Linked DNA regions of Homo sapiens. The protein of the gene in region 3 purifies or fractionates together with the protein of the main gene of each other region. This does not show direct contact. Each region holds a gene or a part of one and is shown on either strand. Other genes may lie near its edges. The genes, in order: GLO1, RNPEP, AGL and FKBP1B.

Region 1 (4,058 bases), on a different chromosome or scaffold from region 3:
TTGAATTGGACCAATTCCTCATCCAATATGAACTAATATGATGAGTCCTATAACTTAAGGCAATTGAATTTATGATTAACAAACTTCCAAAGAAGATTTGTCCAGACCCAGGTGATTTCACTGGAGAATTCTGCCAAATGTAAAAGAAGAATTAACATCAATTATACACAACCCCTTCCAGAAAACTGAAGACGGGAGAACACTTCCCAATTCATTTGATAAAGCTAATATTACCCTGATACCAAAAACAAATGAAGACAGTACAAGAAAACTACAGACCAATATCTCCAATGAATATAAATGTAAAAACCCTTGACAAAATGTTAGTAAACAGAATTCAACAGTATATATAGAAAGAATTATACACCTTAACCAAGTGAGGTTTATATCTAGGATGCAAGCCTGGTTCAGTATACAAAAATCAGTCAGTATAATCCACCATATTAAGAGGGTAAAGAAGAATCACATGATCATATCAGTTGGTACAGAAAAGGCATTTGACAAAATTCAACACTCATTCATTATTTTTTTTAAGTTCAGAAAAAAATAGGAATGGGGGCATTTCTTTAACTTGATAAAGAGCTTCTCTTGAAAAGTTAGAGCTAATATTACACTCAGTGGTGATGCTTTCTCCCTAATTTTGGTAATAAGACAAGGATGTCTGCTGTTACCACTCTTATTTGACAAAGTGCTGAAAGTTCTAGACAGTGCAGTAAAGCAAGAAAAGGAAATAAGAGACATATAGGTTGGAAAGGAAGAAATCAAACTGTCCTTATTTGAAGATGACATGATTGTCTACATAGGGAATAATAAGTAATTTACAGAAAACTCCCAGAATTCATAAATGAGTTCAGCAAGGTTGCAGGGTACAAAATAAACATACAGAAATCAATCGCGTTTCTATATACTAGCAAAGAACACACAGGCACCAAAAATTAAAAAATACATTACCATTTACAATTGCCCAATAAAATGAAATACTTAGATATAAATCTAATAAACATTTACAGGACACATATGCTGAAAACAGCAATGGCGATGCAAAAAGTCATAGATCTAAATAAATGGAGAGATTTATTGTGTTCATGATTGGAAGACTCAGCACAGTAAGGATATCAATTCTCCCCAAATCAATATACATGTTTAACACACTCCTTATCAAACTTTTTTAGACAGAGACAGGGTTATTCTAGATTGAAAGGCAAAAAAACTAGAATAACAAACCATTTTGGAAAAGAATAAAGTGGGAAGAATTTTTCTACCTGATTTTAAGACTTACATAGCTACAGTAATCACTACTCTGTGGTATTGGCAGAGAGATAGAACATTGAAACAAAATAGAGAACCCCAAAATATACCCACACTAGTATGCCCAACAGCTTTTTGACAAAGATGAAAAAGCAGTTCACCAGAGGGAGGATAGCCTCAACAAATGGTGCTGAAGCAATTGGACATCCTTAGGTTAAAAATGAAGCTCTACTCAATTCTCATCCCTTATACCAAAAAAAAAAAAATCCATTTACTGGTGCTTAAAGGGGCCTTAATCCTTTGGTTCACATCCTTGCCTCACTTTTACAGTTTTGTAAGGATTGTATTGTAGGCAGGTAGGACATGCACTAGAAACATCCTTGATTGTACCTTTAAAGTTTTCTTGGCGGTTGCGGTGGCTCACACCTGTAATCCCAGCACTTTGGGAGGTCAAGGCGGGTGGACCACAAGTTCAGGAGTTTGAGATCAGCCTGGCCAATGTGGTGAAACCCTTTCTCTACTAAAAATATAAAAATTAGCTGGGCGTGGTGGCTGGTGCCTGTAGTCCCAGCTACTCAGGAGGCTGAGGCAGGAGAATCGCTTGAAGCTCGGGAGGCGGAGCTTGCAGTGAGCCAAGATTGCGCCACTGCACTCCAGCCTGGGTGACAGAGCGAGACTCCATCTTAAAAAAAAAAAAAGTTTTCTTACAGTAGTTTTCTTAATTAAATTTGGAGAATGACACTTCCCCTCCCCCCGAAAAAAACCTTATTATTTCTATTGTCCACCTTTTGATAAGGCACAGGAGCAAATCTTTGTCACCCAGTAGCCATCCCTGTAAAACCAAAGATAGTTTAGGCATAAAAGACACCTTATTTTTATTGTTCTAAATTTAAAGCATGATAAGGGAAAGACAAAATTAAGGACTATCAGGTGAGACAAGACATGAGCATAGCATAAGTCTTACTTTTTAAAACAGGAGATACATGTATTTTAAACGATATTTTAGAACCATACCAATAAAGCAATAATTTTTAGGAACTTAACTTTTTAAAACAGGAACTTTTTCTCAAGATCATGCAAGTGTTCACAAGAGGCACATGGAGTTAACAGACTATTTTGGTGATAAAAATAAAACTGTTATCTGAGCATAGAATAACTTGATCATTTTCTTAAAAATAAGCCCTTCTTGTTTTTATATCCATTTAACAATTTGTAGCAAAGGATTTATAAGCCTCTATTTTATCAATAAATTCACTAACGTTGAATATATCTTACTTTTTTTGCCACGTATAGACTTTTTAAAGTGAATTTTAATATTCTTTATGTGTATGTGTTTAGGCAGATACAGTACATAGTTCTCTTAATAATAAAGTTAAAGTCTGTAACATTAATTTTAAGATATAATTAATCTCAATAGCATATTAAGTGGTATTTGTTTTCATATGCATGTGTGTGTGTATATATATATAATGTTTTTAAAAGCTAATATACCATTTTATATATTCCCATGCCATTAGACTTAGTATACCATCTGTATATATCTCCATGCCATTTAATATACCTCGACGCAGCATTTTAAATGTTTTTCATAATATTCTTTTATGCCTGTGTCATACTATCTAACTATTCCTTTGTTAGAGGCAGTTAGTGGTTTAAAAGCAAGGACTTTGGAATCAGATTGCTTGGGCCAGAATTTTTTCTCTGCCACTTACTTTCTCAGCAGTAAAATGGGGATGATAATAATATGTATCTCATGGGCTTGTTGTGAAGATTACATGTATTAGTTTCTTTGAATCTCTTAGAACAGCATCTGGCACATAGTTATTGTGTAAGTGTTGTGATGGATGCCTTTGTACATAAATCTTTGTCAGAGTAATTATTTCCTTAGAATTTTAGAAAGAGAACATCTTGGTCAAAGAATATGAATTCTTAGGCCAAGGCAGGCGGATCACGAGGTCAAGAGATCGAGACCATCCTGGCCAACATGGTGAAACTCTGTCTCTACTAAAAATACAAAAATTAGCCGGGCTGGGTGGCGGGCGCCTGTAGTCCCAGCTACTCGGGAGGCTGAGGCAGGAGAATCGCTTGAACCCGGGAGGCGGGTTGCAGTGAGCCAAGATCTCACTGCTGCACTCTAGCCTGGAAACAGAGGGAGACTCTATCTCAAAAAAAAAGAAAAGAATATTAATTCGTGCACCACCACTACTGGCTGATTTTTTGTATTTTTAGTAGAGACGGGGTTTCACCATGTTGATCAGTCTGTTTCTCGAGCTCCTGACCTCGTGATCCGCCCGTCTCAGCCCCCCAAAGTGCTGGGATTACAGGCGTGAGCCACTGCACCTGGCCAAGAATATGAATTCTTGAGGACTCTTGATATTCCAGTTGTTTTCCAGAAAGATTGTAAGATAAGGATATGATAGACTATGGGATAGAATAGTTAAGGTTGTCTAACTTTGGCAAGTACTTGGCATGGCATCTACAACAAAAAATACATGCTGTGCCTAAGATATATGGATTTGAGTATAGCCTGTATAGTGTGAACAGAAGTAATGATAAAGTCGTTGGTAAAGTACCAATACTAATGTTGGTACTAGAAAGATGTTGAAGAAACAAAACATAAACAGGGTCACTACAAAGCAGATTTTAAAAGATAGTTTTTAGATTTTATCCTTTTTTAAAAAAACTGAGCAACAAATAATGTTGGGTGCAGCTTGGTTGGAAATATATTATCTCATAATTCCATAGGCTAGAGGTCCGACTTGGGTCTGTCCCACTGTATTGACAGGACTGTGTTCCTTACTCAGAGGCTC
Region 2 (4,058 bases), about 100 Mb from region 3:
TCTCCCAAATACCCACTTATAGAAGTAGAGAAAAGGAATTGTATAACAAGGGACTGGGACATTATAGCAGCGGGAAGTGGGCAAGGGGCTTTGGGGTGTTGGTAAGAGGTAACCAACCACACACTTGGGCCAGGGAGGGAAGCCCAGTCAGGAGGGTCTTGACTGCCCAGGAGAAATGAGTGGCTTGCCGGAAGGGAGGCTGCCATGAGCTCAAGGAGGAGACATGGTGGAATATAGTGGGAGAGAGGCCGTCAGAGAGCTGGAAGGTTAGCAGAGTCAGGATGAATGAGGACAAGGGGCTCAAGGGCCTTAAAAGTTCAGATATGGTACAGTTCATGACAATGACGATGTCTAGGCTCTAGACTCCAGAGCATGGGTGTGAATATGGGTGGCTGACAGAGTGGAGAAGGCTCCCTGAGTAGAGGTCAAGAAACCCTGAAGGTTGGTGTTGTGGCTCATGCCTGCAATCCCAACACTTTGGGAGGCCGAGGTGGGAGGATCTCTTGAGCCCAGGAGTTCAAGATCAGCCTGGACAACATAGCAAGACCTTGCTCCTGCAGAAAATAAATAAAATTAACTGGGCATGGTGACAGAGTAGCTGTGGTCCCAGCTACTCTGGAGACTGAAGTGGGAGGACTGCTTGAGCCTGGTAGCTTGAGGTTCAATGGGCTGTTATTGTGCCACTGCATTCCAGCCTGGGCAAGAGAGCGAGGCAAGAAAAGAAAGAAAGAGGGAGGGAGGGAGGGAGGGAGAAAGGCACAAGAAACCCTGCAGCCACCCTCAACCCTGGGTGTTAGGAGAGAAAAGTCGCCAAAGATGATGTGACAGGAAACCAGACAGAAAAAGATCATGGGACGGCAGTCAGTATCTTCAAGGAATTACTTTGTGAATTGTTCTACCACCACCTTGGATGTCAAAATTACCACAGTCCTTCAGCCCAGTGGACTTCAGCTTGTTACAACTAGAAGGTTTAAGACAGTCATCCAAGATACCTCCACCAGGACACACATTTCTGTCAAAATAAATCAGGATGCTCTCAGTCAAGCTGCAATCTCACTACCTGTAGTATATTGCAAAGAGCACTGGATTTGCAATGGAAATACCTGAATTTTAATTCCAGTTTTGCCAACTAGTGGTCCTGCACAAGCCACTCACCACAGCCTTGGTTTGCTTATTTTTAAAATGTAGAAAGTATCATCCTCATGGAGTCTGTGTAAGGATTAGAAGAGATTATACATAAAAGGGCCTACTGGGATATACCCATAATTCCCCTCTGCCCAGGATTTTCCTCTTGCAGTAACAGGGACTGGGATAGGTGGCATACCTTGCCAGAAGACCCTCCGATTTAATAAACCCCCACGGCCCGGCGTGGTGGCTCATGCCTGTAATCGAGCACTTTGGGAGGCCGAGGTGGATGGATCACGAGGTCAGGAGTTCAAGACTAGCCTGGCCAACATAGTGAAACCCTGTCTCTATTAAAAATATGAAAATTAGCCAGAAATGGTGGCACACACCTGTAGTCCCAGCTACTTGGGAGGCTGAGGCAGGAGAATCACTTGAACCCAGGAGGCGGAGGTTGTGGTGAGCCAAGATCGCGCCACTGCACTCCAGCCTGGGCAACAGAGCAAGACGCCATCTCAAAAATAATAAATAAATAACCCCCCACAAGACCCTACGATGTGACCCAGGAGGCAAGAACTGTCCATTTAATCACGGAAGGAATAAGGCATTACCACCAGTTAAGTGGATTCTGTCACCTAGTTCGATATACCATGTTGTCATTTTATTACAGGCAGTATAAAAAGAAATCATTATCACTCAGTATCTTTAGAATCTATTGTTCTCTCATTTCCCATTAATAGTTCATACTCTTACAAGTAGAACCTTAGTAAGGGTATTCTTGGAAACGACGTTCCTTTACTTATCTACTTGCTTGTCTATTGCAAAGATGACATCCTTTTGGTTATTTCCCGCCCTGCCTATTAGGAAGACAGCCCTTCGTAAGAGGAGGGCACTTTGTCTTTCCAGACTGGTATTGTTTTGAATGTGTGCGCTGGGAGCAGATGCCAATGGAATCCCATTTATTATTCCAACTGATAACCAGAAACTAAGACTCATGATACCAGCAGTGCCACTGAGCCCAGTTATGAAGTCTGAGGCTCGTAACTAATGTTGTCAAGGACACCACTGCCTCTAGGAACTGGGAGCAGGGCCAGAGATAAAGAACAGCAACAGTGCCAGGAAAAGGTCACGGCTTCACCGTCCAGCCTGTGATGCTCCCACATTGGGACTAAGCTATGGTGGAGGTAATATGAGAGCCAGGAAAAACCTATACTCCTGGTCAAACCTCTTTTATCAGGAAACCTTACAAAATCCCTTTTTATCTTCACAAGATCCATGTAACTTCACGGAGGCATTGCTCTCACCGTAGGCTTAGACTCATGCATCTGCTGCAGATAGGAAGGAGAGTCCACTTCCCTCTTCGAGGGAAATGATACCAAAGTTGTTATTTCCAGGAACTACGTGCAAAAGAAAATGGGGAAGATTTGGTACAAAGATAGGAAAGTGGATATAGCTGCTAGAAGGGCATTTAGAACTTAAAGATATTAATAAAGATCCATTTCCCAGGCCGGGCATGATGGCTCATGCCTGTAATCCCAGCACTTTGGGAGGCCAAGGCGGGTGAATCACCTGAGGTCAGGAGTTCAAGAGCAGCCTGGCCAACATGGTGAAACCCCGTCTCTACGAAAAATACAAAAATTAGCCGAGCGTGGTGGGGCATGCCTGCAGTCCCAGTTACTTGGGAGGCTGGGGCAGGAGAATCGCTTGAACCCAGGAGGCAGAGGTTGCAGTGAGCCAAGATCGCACCATTGCACTCCAGTCCAGCCTGGGCAACACAGCAAGACTCCATCTCAAAAAAAAAAAAAAATCCATTTCCCAAAACTGCAGCCTAAATTCCAACATCCCTCTGTAAGGCAGCCCAGGACAGCGCTACTGCTAGCAGGGATGATGATCTCATTCCAGGCAGCAGGATTAGAACTGGAGAGAGGGAGTGAGAAAGGCAGGGAGAAAAAGAGCACTTCCTCCAGCTGTGCTCATGCTGCATGAGCTGCAGAAAGGCTCTGGACTCAGACAGAGGATCCAAGACTGCCCAAGAACCCCCCCAGCAGGTCCACTGGTCAGAGTCCTCCTCACCTCTGAGGCCAATCCAACCTTGCCTGTGGGGTCTTTGTCTCCTACCTGGGTCCAACTTCAGCCGAAACCAGATCTCCGATGGCCAAAGCTATCAGATAGGAGGGGATGGGCTGACACATCTGGAAGAAGAACTTATTTGGACCTCTCTTCTCCCAGGTGCTAGCACTCATCACAGCTGTGAAGCCATCTGGGACCTGACAACAGAGAAAGCTTAGGAGATTTTACCTGGAGAGAGTTTCCTTTTGATTAGTTTGAATAAGAGCATGACCGGCCACCTGTGTGTGATGATAATGGCCTGGAGTCTATCTTGGAGAACACAAAGGTTTCAAGAAACTAAATCTGTGCTCAACTGATGGGATTTAGAGGAAGGCTACATACAACTTCAGTAGGTGGAAGAATTTAAAAGTAAGCAATTTTTCAGAAGTACCACTGAATGGATATAATAATTTACCACTGAAACGTGACCTGATTGATAGATCTGAAATCATTTCTTCATCCCAAGGGCAGGTGCACCTAACCTTAGTCTCCTTACCTCAATAAGAGCTGAATACTTGTATTTAACAGCAGGCGTGTCGAAGCAAGGGAAGAAGGCCCGGTTTAGGACAGCCTGGCCCTGGGTGTACACGAAGGGCTTCTTCTTTCCTGCTGTCTGCTCGGGAGCCAACCAGCAAACCTAAGCGAAAAGAAGAACATTTCAGAACTGACATCTCCCACACGAGCTCAGTCTGGCCAGAGAAGTGAGCTGGCTGGAATGAGAGAATTTTAGGTAATCCTTAAAACCTTTCCGCCAGCCAGTCTGGTTTGAACTAGAAAGCTCTCTCCTCTGTGTATTTAGTTCATCCTGGAATCCATGCCAAAGTATG
Region 3 (4,058 bases):
TTTTATAGCCCAGTATTCCATAACAACTGCAAAAGATTGTTAGAATTATGCTAATTATGCAATAGTGATAAATACTACCACCAAATCAATGCTTGTGTCCAACTAGCAAAAGGAAACATTTACCTGCATAGTTTACTTAAGGAAAGCTAGGAAGGAACACTGAATTTCTTTTCTTAATGTAGATAAATTGTTTTTCTGTACCTCAGCTACGTGAAGAGGTGTTGAGTGGCAGTTATCAAGACGTACTCCCTGGAAATAAGTTGCAGTTATTTCAGTGTATTTTTTCATGTGTGCCCAGAGATAAGGACAGTCCTCTGGTTTATTCCCATAGCGTAATTTAACACTGTCTCCCCAGCAAATAAGTTCTCTCCTTAGGTAAACTTCTGAACCTGTTCAGAAAAGAGATTGCTTTCAATGGTTCAAGAAATAAAATGAAAACAATTACTTCAAGGAAACACTGGTTTTTAAATTGCTTTGATCATTTCTGCCATAAATGATATATTGGTTAAATTATATCTAAAGTGGTATGAGATAATGTTTTAAAAAATTAATAATTATTTATTTCTCATAGCTATTCTGAAAAAACTCTAGCTTACAGTCTCTTCTAAAAATTTGTCCTCAATTTCAAAAACCCAAGTCGCATCATAAGGGAAAACAGAAATGTTAATATCATAGGCCTTTTAAAACCATAGTTCTACCAAAAACATTTAAAACTCCATCTCCACCCTCCTACTTATTTTCGGCAACAGGTTGTATTAGATCCATGGCATACAGCAGAATGGCTTGATTTCGTTTAGAATGGCTAGAAAAAAGAGGGCAGAGATACTTACACCCAAATTTATACTCTTAAAAAAAAGCATTAAGATTTCTGAATAAATTTTAATGTCACTAATATAGACTCCTAGTTTCGAAATGTTAAAAAATAAATATATCAATGGGCTCCTGCAACATTCTTCCTGGTAATGAAATAGCTATAGAAACACAAGACACTAAGAGTGAGGGGGGACCTAAAACCATTAGGTTCTGGTTTAATTGCCACTGAAATTCTTAATACCTCTGGCCAATGAGTGAAAATATCTCTTATGTCAATGTAATTGTAATAGCAGTGGTTTCAAACTTGTCTGTAAAAATGCAATAATATTTTGTCCAAATAAAAGCTTATGTAGACCCACAATATAGAAAACAGTACATAAAAGTTATTCTGTTTGAGAAGATAAAAGGTAGGAAGGCAAAGGAGAGGACAGAAGATGAACTTCTTTTTTTGTTGGCTCCATGTTTTCTTTCTCAAATTGTATGTATCTCTGGTACCTTTATGGTGAAATATTTAAAAACCAATAGACTAATGGGGAAGAAAATCAGTAAAGCAGATTTTATTTTGACCTTGCCATGAACTATTCTTTCCCCATCCACAGAGAAGTTAAAAATTACATACCCGGTTCAGCAAAGTTTCGAAGAGGATCATCTCCCATTACCCATCCATTGTGTGCCATCAGAAAACAAGCTTTATTTGGCAGATGAATCATAGATTCTTCCATGGAGAAGTCTATCTCTTCAAATGGGAAAGTAAAATACCTATGAAAATATAATTAAATATTAAATCCATACAAAGAAACTCCTTGGAGAGAATATAAATTTGCAATATTAAAACTAAACTTCTTTTCTAATGAATAGAATAAAATAAGTTTGATGCTATTTATAGGAAAAAAACTTCAATATAGGTCAAAAATCTTCATTAGGCTTTTTGAGTAAATCTAGCAGGATGTGAGAAATAGGGAGTTAACATGACAGCATATCTGGCTAACAGTTTAAACAATTTTTAAAACTTCATAAAATTATTTTAAAAAATCATTGAGGCAGCTGGGCATGGTGGCTCATGCCTGTAATCCTAGAACTTTCGGAGGCCGAGGCAGGGGGATTACCTGAGGTCAGGAGTTTGAGACCAGCCTGGCCAACATGGGGAAACCCCGTCTCTACTAAAACTACAAAAATTAGCTGGGCATGGTGGTGCACCTCTGTAGTCCTGGCTACTTGGGAGGCTGAGGCAGGAGAATCGCTTGAACCCTGGAGGCGGAGGTTGCAATGAGCTGAGATCGTGCCACTGCACTCCAGCCTGGGTGACAGAACAAGACTCCATCTCAAAGAAAAAAAATAAATACATAATTGAGGCATTGATGTTACTTTGCAAAGATATTTTTAAAAAAGACTCTAAGTAAAGATATGCAAAGGCTTTTACTGCACTCTAGTTGCCCAACCTATGCTTTATGTCACTTACAAAGTAAGGAGCCAGATGCTTGCTTAATTTGATTAATATTGAATTTATTACTAAGTATGCAGTCCTCCAGAAACATTAAATAATAACTATGAATTGGTTTATACTGATGACAGTTTCTCTAACAAAATATTTGCCTAACAAAATTAGTTAATATTAAGCCTATGTCCAAATCAAAACTTCTATTTCAATTTAAGAAATGTACTGAACTCACATGTTAAAGAAAACATTTAGGTTAATTTCAAAAGTTAAATACAATTTTCAGTTTTCAACCATCAATAAGAAAAAAAACAAAAATGCAACACCTGGTAACTAAAGGATGCTTTCTAGTGACAGGTCCTAGTTTTGGACCATGGCCAGCCAGTCGTTCATAAAACACATTTCCCAAAAGGCAATTAACTGCCTGAAAAACATTAAATTGTGTTAGATCATCACCATCCTCAAGACAACAAAAAAATAGTAGTAAGATGCAAGGAAAAGCAGCAGTTCAAAAATAAGTAAAACCTGTTCCTGATGATAGTTAATGAGTCGATGCTTCTCTGAATTTAATTCCTCCATTCTTTTATGAAACCAATTACAGCATTCTTCAATTGCTGCTGGCCCCTTGCTAGAGCAGATGGAGAAATGCAGATATAATATTTAATGGCTTTACAGATTCTACATTTAAAAACTTTCTAACAAAGGTCACAGAAACCTTAAATATATTCATCGGGATTTCAATTATGGCTGATGATGTTTTCCAATTGTAAAAATGTTTATATACACATATAGAAACATGGCCCACACACAGAAAAAGTGGGAAAATGTCATGTGCTGAAATAGTAGAATTACAGTGAATTACTTTATTTCATTTTCTATTAAGCGTTTTTAATAAGTAGTATGAAAATCATACTAGCCATAAAGGTTTGTAAGTAATATTATTATTTCACAGAAAAAAACACATTACATACTCATGTGGTATGAAAGTCGTTAGTGCAATGTTCATATCTACAGTACAGCCAAACCGTCTGTATTCAGGATCTTGAATAATCGTAAGGTGTTGGTTTGGATCAGACTTGGTTACTCGCCTATTTTCTAAAAGAAAGAAAAGACGATACCTTAAATGCAAATATCTACAAAGAGATTATAACTGTCACTATTTTCTAATTTTTGGCCTATAATTTTTTCACTGAAAATAAAACAAATATTTATTTCACAGGTATCCTCCTACCTCCTCCCCTTCTCATCCTGCTGTGTGCACGTGTGTGCACGTGCGTGCACGCGCAAACACACACGAGGGGTGTGGGGGAGAAAGAAACAGAGACAAAAATAACATAAAAGAAAGACACAAGGATTCCTATCAATTCAATCTCAGCCCCCACTTTTCTGCCTACATCAGCATTCACTTATTCTATTCTTTTTTTATTTTTTTATATATATATTTTATTATACTTTAAGTTCTAGGGTACATGTGCACAACTTGCAGGTTTGTTATACATGTATACATGTACCTTTTTTTTTTTTAAACACTTTAAGGACTTTAGTGGAACCCGTTTTCCTCCCCGGTGCTACCAAATATTCTAACCTCAGGAGTTCTTTTTCAAGATTGCTTTCAAAGTTTGCTTCCTGAAGTCTTATTAACAACCTGACTTTCTTTGAATTCTCTAAAAGAAGCACACAGGTTTAATACTTTTTTTCCCTTTTCATCAACCATATTCCTTAGATAATAACTTAAAAATTAAAAAGGAAATAAATGGTTTTTGGGGAAATTTTCACTCTTTTTCTGGAACTTGTTTGTAATAAAATTAAG
Region 4 (4,058 bases), on a different chromosome or scaffold from region 3:
ATTGTCTCTGTCCATTAGAATATAAACTCCAGGGCGGGTTTGGTGGCTCATGCCTATAATCTCAGCACTTTGGGAGGTTGAGGTGGGAGAATCTCTTGAGCTCAGGAGTTCAAGGCCAACCTGGACAACATGTTAAGACCCTGTCTCTACAAATTTTTTTTAAAAAAATTAGCTGGGCATGGCAGCATGCACTTGCAGTACTAGCTACTCAGAAGGCAGAGGAAGAAAGATTGCTTGAGCCCAGGAAAGGTCAAGGCTGCACAGAGCCGAGATCATGCTGTTGCACTCCAGCCTGGGTGACACACTGAGACCCCTACTCTTAAAAAAAAAAAGTAAACTCTAAAAGAACAGGGATAGAGATCTTGTTTGTAGTGTTCACTGCTGTATCCCTGTGATCAGGCACAGGCTTGGCACACCATAGGTACTCAGTAAATATTTGTGGTTTTGTTTTGTTTTGTTTTGTCTGTTTGTTTATTGTGACAGGGTCTTGCTCTGTCACCCAGGGTAGAGTGCAGTAGCATGAACACAGCTCACTGCAGCCTTGACCTCCTGGGCTCAAACAATCCTTCCACTTCAGCTTCTTCAGTAGCTGGGACTATAGGTATGCGGCACCACACCCAGCTAATTGAAAAGATTTTTTTTTTTTTTTTTTTTTTTTAGAGATGGGGTCTCCCTATGTTACCCAGGGTGATCTAGAACTCCTGAGCTCAAGTGATCCTCCCACCTCAGCCTCCCAAAGTGCTGAGATTACAGATGTGAGCCACCATGCCTGGCCTCTCAGCAAATATTTGTAAATTATTGTGTTTATTCATCTTTGATGGATGGATTATAATCTGCATTGTAATCTGGTATTTGTGTGTCTGTTTCCCTACCTTCCTCATGAGTTCATACATTGCTCTGCATGTCTGAAGTCTGGTCCAGGCCTGGCACATAGGAGGCCAACTGTAAATGTCTGTGGAATGGATGATGTGAAGTAAAAGGGGCAATCAAAGAAAGTGGGGGTGGGGTGGTGGGAAAGCCCAGGAGACAGCAGAATTGAGAAAATTGAGGGGGTAAAGTAAATCCAGGCCAGAGAGGTGACGTGATTCATTCTGGCTCGTACAGGGCCCAGAGCCAGAACTAGGGCCACAGGCATCTCCATGGCATGGAGGGGAATGCAGGCTGGAGCTCTTGGTCAGGATCATACTTAATGTCCCAGGTGTTTTTCCAATATCCTACTCCTTCATCTGCCCTCATGTCTCCCTGCAGGAAGGACATTCCCCAAGAAGGGCCAAACGTGTGTGGTGCACTACACAGGTAAGTCTCACCCCCTCAGCCCCCACCCAGTCCTTCCCCTCCCAAGGCAGGGCTGTCCTCTGAGCTTCTCTCCAGAGGTGCCTGCCTCTGGATCAGGGCTAAAGCCCAAGGCAGCAGGGTCTCCCTGTGACCAGCCATCCTCTACTCCTCCCAGCCAGTCTAGTGGGAATGATAAAGGAGGCTTGGAAGGCCAACTCTTTCCCTCTTCTACCAGCAAGGGCCATCCATGGTGCCAGCTTCTAGGTGAGTCAAACACCTTCAGTCCCCTTCCTTCTGTTGCAGGTATGGTGGAGCCCCTGTCCCTGCTGGGTCTGTCTGATATTTGGAAATCCCTCCTAGAGCTCCCCGCAGACTTTCTCTCCATCCTGCAGTATCATTAGAGAAGAAGAGGAGGGGAGAGGACAGACAAGTCACCCAGAGGCTCCGATGCCATTTGAGGGGTGGGGTGATGGCAGTGCTTTTCTCTGGGTACTGAGGGAGCCCAGAGCGGGACTGATCCCAGTTGGATGCTCTTTATCTGCAGGCGAGGTAGAGTGAGTTCTTCAGGACTGCTGGCAGGAAGATCATGAGCAGGTGTTTGTTCCAAGGGAGGTGAGCACCCTGCCTTGTGACCTGCTTCCTAAAGTGGCAAACTCGATGACAGCCACTTAGCAGACAGCAAGCCCAGGTTAATTCCTAGGACATACTCGGATGGGGCCATTTTTAGCAGTTCTGTGGGCCAGTGTGAAGCACAAGGTTAATTCTAGGCAGATGGTGTGGATGTTTTCAGCAGTTGTGTTGCTGGTCGCTGATGTCAGTGGGCTGGACCATGTTTTATCTCCTGGTGATGTGGCCTAATTACCATGGGTCGTCTGGGGCCTCTGACCTGTGTAATTGATTTAACAATTTTGCATGTTGTAGACAGACCAGTATTTATCAAGTTACTGAAACCACAACATCCTTTTGCAAAGTCCTTTCACAATACATACATAGGGCAGCAGCTCCTGTCTTGGGAGAGACTATGTCTTATCAAACATAGCGGGAGACTATGGGACTTTTGGTAAACTTTAAAGTTAAATATAAATATAGTAGAGAACATAATGTAAGATGTCTAGGTCAATGAATTTTTTCAAAGTGATCACATTTATGTGACTACCACCTAGAGAAGCATAGAACATACAAGCATAGAACCAGCATCCCCAAAAGTCCCCCTGATGCCTTCTCCCAGTCATTTCACCTCCCTAGAGGTAGCTATCATTGTTTTTCTTTTTTTTTTTTTTTTTGTCATTGTTGTTGTTGTTTTGAGACAGGGTCTCACTCTGTGACTCAGGCTGAGTGCAGTGGTGATCACAGCTCATTGCAGCCTCGACCTCTCGGGCTCAAGTGACCCTCCTGCTTCAGTGTCCTGACTAGCTGGGACCACAGACATGAGCCACCATGCCTGGCTAATTTTAATTTTTTGTAGAGATGAGGGTCTCACTATGTTGCCCGGGCTGGTCTCGAACGCCTGTATGCAAGTGATCCTTCCACCTTGGCCTCCTAGTGCTGGGATTACAGGTGTGAGCCACTGTGCCTGGCTGGCAACTATTACTCTGACTTTTGTCTCCATGGATTGGTTTTGCCTATTTTTGAACTTCATCTTAATGGAACCACAGCGTAGGTACTCTTTTGTGTTTGGCTTATTTCACTCACTATTATGTCTGCGAGATATATCCAGAATGGTTTATTCCTCTACAGTATTTTAACGTACAAGTATGTTGCAATTTATGTATCCTCTCTACCGTTGATGAACATTTGGGTTGTTCATAGTTTTTGTTTATTACAAACAGTGTCACTTTGATCAGTCTTGCAGGCATCTCTTAGTGTACATGTGTACAGACATATGTGCATGTTTCTGTTGGGTATATACCTGGAAGTGGGGTACCTCCTGGGCTCAGCGTTAGCAGTACTGTCTGACAGCTTTCCAAAGTCGTTGTGCCAGTTTCCACTCTAGGCAGCTGTGTAGGAGACTGCCAGTTACCCTGTGTCCTCCCCAACACTTGTTATTGTCAGGTTTTGGTTTTGTTTTGTTTTTTCTTTTTTTGAGACAGAGTCTATGTTGCCCAGGCTGGAGAGAAATGGCATGATCTTGGCTCACTGCAACCTCTGCCTCCTGGGTTCAAGCGATTCTCCTGCCTTAGCCTCCCGAGTAGCTGGGATTACAGGCGCCCGCCACCATGCCTGGCTAATTTTTGTGTTTCTAGTAGAGACGGTGTTTCACCATATTGGCCAGGCTGATCTCAAACTCCTGACCTCAGGTGATCTGCCTGCCTCGGCCTCTCAAAGTGCTGGGATTACAGGAATGAGCCACCACACCAGGCTTTGTTTTGGTTTTGGCCTACTCTGGTGAGCGTTCAGTACCATTTCATTGTGGGTTTTTTTGTTTTTTTTTTTTGAGACAAGGTCTCACTCTGTTGCCAAGGCTGGAGTGCAGTGGTGCGATCTTGGCTCACTGCAACCCCGCCTCCTGGGTTCAAGCGATTCTTGTGCCTCAACCTCCCAAGTAGCTGGGATTACAGGTGCGCACCACCACACCCAGCTAATTTTTGTATTTTTTGTAGAGATGGGATTTCACCATGTTGGCCAGGCTGGTCACTGTGGTTTTGATTTGTGTTTCCCTGATGATGAATGAAGTTGAGCACCTTTTCATGTGCCTACTGGCCATTTGGATATCCTCTTTAGACTGCTCTAATTTTGTCCATTTTAGAAAATTAGGTTGTCTTTTTCTTTTTCTTTTTTTGAGA

What was found.
Region 1: the proteins of AGL (region 3) and GLO1 fractionate together in Homo sapiens (co-fractionation; one large-scale study listed by BioGRID). This does not show direct contact.
Region 2: the proteins of AGL (region 3) and RNPEP fractionate together in Homo sapiens (co-fractionation; one large-scale study listed by BioGRID). This does not show direct contact.
Region 4: the proteins of AGL (region 3) and FKBP1B fractionate together in Homo sapiens (co-fractionation; one large-scale study listed by BioGRID). This does not show direct contact.

The regions. Positions count from the first base shown.
Region 1 is NC_000006.12:38,689,201-38,693,258, reverse strand, and holds part of GLO1 (lactoylglutathione lyase), read left to right. Parts: intron 1-4,058. UniProt on the Homo sapiens protein: Catalyzes the conversion of hemimercaptal, formed from methylglyoxal and glutathione, to S-lactoylglutathione. Involved in the regulation of TNF-induced transcriptional activity of NF-kappa-B. Required for normal osteoclastogenesis.
Region 2 is NC_000001.11:201,988,714-201,992,771, reverse strand, and holds part of RNPEP (aminopeptidase B), read right to left. Parts: intron 3,869-4,058; coding exon 3,728-3,868; intron 3,390-3,727; coding exon 3,241-3,389; intron 1-3,240. UniProt on the Homo sapiens protein: Exopeptidase which selectively removes arginine and/or lysine residues from the N-terminus of several peptide substrates including Arg(0)-Leu-enkephalin, Arg(0)-Met-enkephalin and Arg(-1)-Lys(0)-somatostatin-14.
Region 3 is NC_000001.11:99,873,972-99,878,029, reverse strand, and holds part of AGL (glycogen debranching enzyme), read right to left. Parts: intron 3,344-4,058; coding exon 3,220-3,343; intron 2,877-3,219; coding exon 2,774-2,876; intron 2,673-2,773; coding exon 2,575-2,672; intron 1,573-2,574; coding exon 1,433-1,572; intron 390-1,432; coding exon 202-389; intron 1-201. UniProt on the Homo sapiens protein: Multifunctional enzyme acting as 1,4-alpha-D-glucan:1,4-alpha-D-glucan 4-alpha-D-glycosyltransferase and amylo-1,6-glucosidase in glycogen degradation.
Region 4 is NC_000002.12:24,052,654-24,056,711, forward strand, and holds part of FKBP1B (peptidyl-prolyl cis-trans isomerase FKBP1B), read left to right. Parts: intron 1-1,248; coding exon 1,249-1,296; intron 1,297-1,450; exon of another isoform or gene 1,451-1,539; intron 1,540-1,819; exon of another isoform or gene 1,820-1,963; intron 1,964-4,058. UniProt on the Homo sapiens protein: Has the potential to contribute to the immunosuppressive and toxic effects of FK506 and rapamycin. PPIases accelerate the folding of proteins. It catalyzes the cis-trans isomerization of proline imidic peptide bonds in oligopeptides.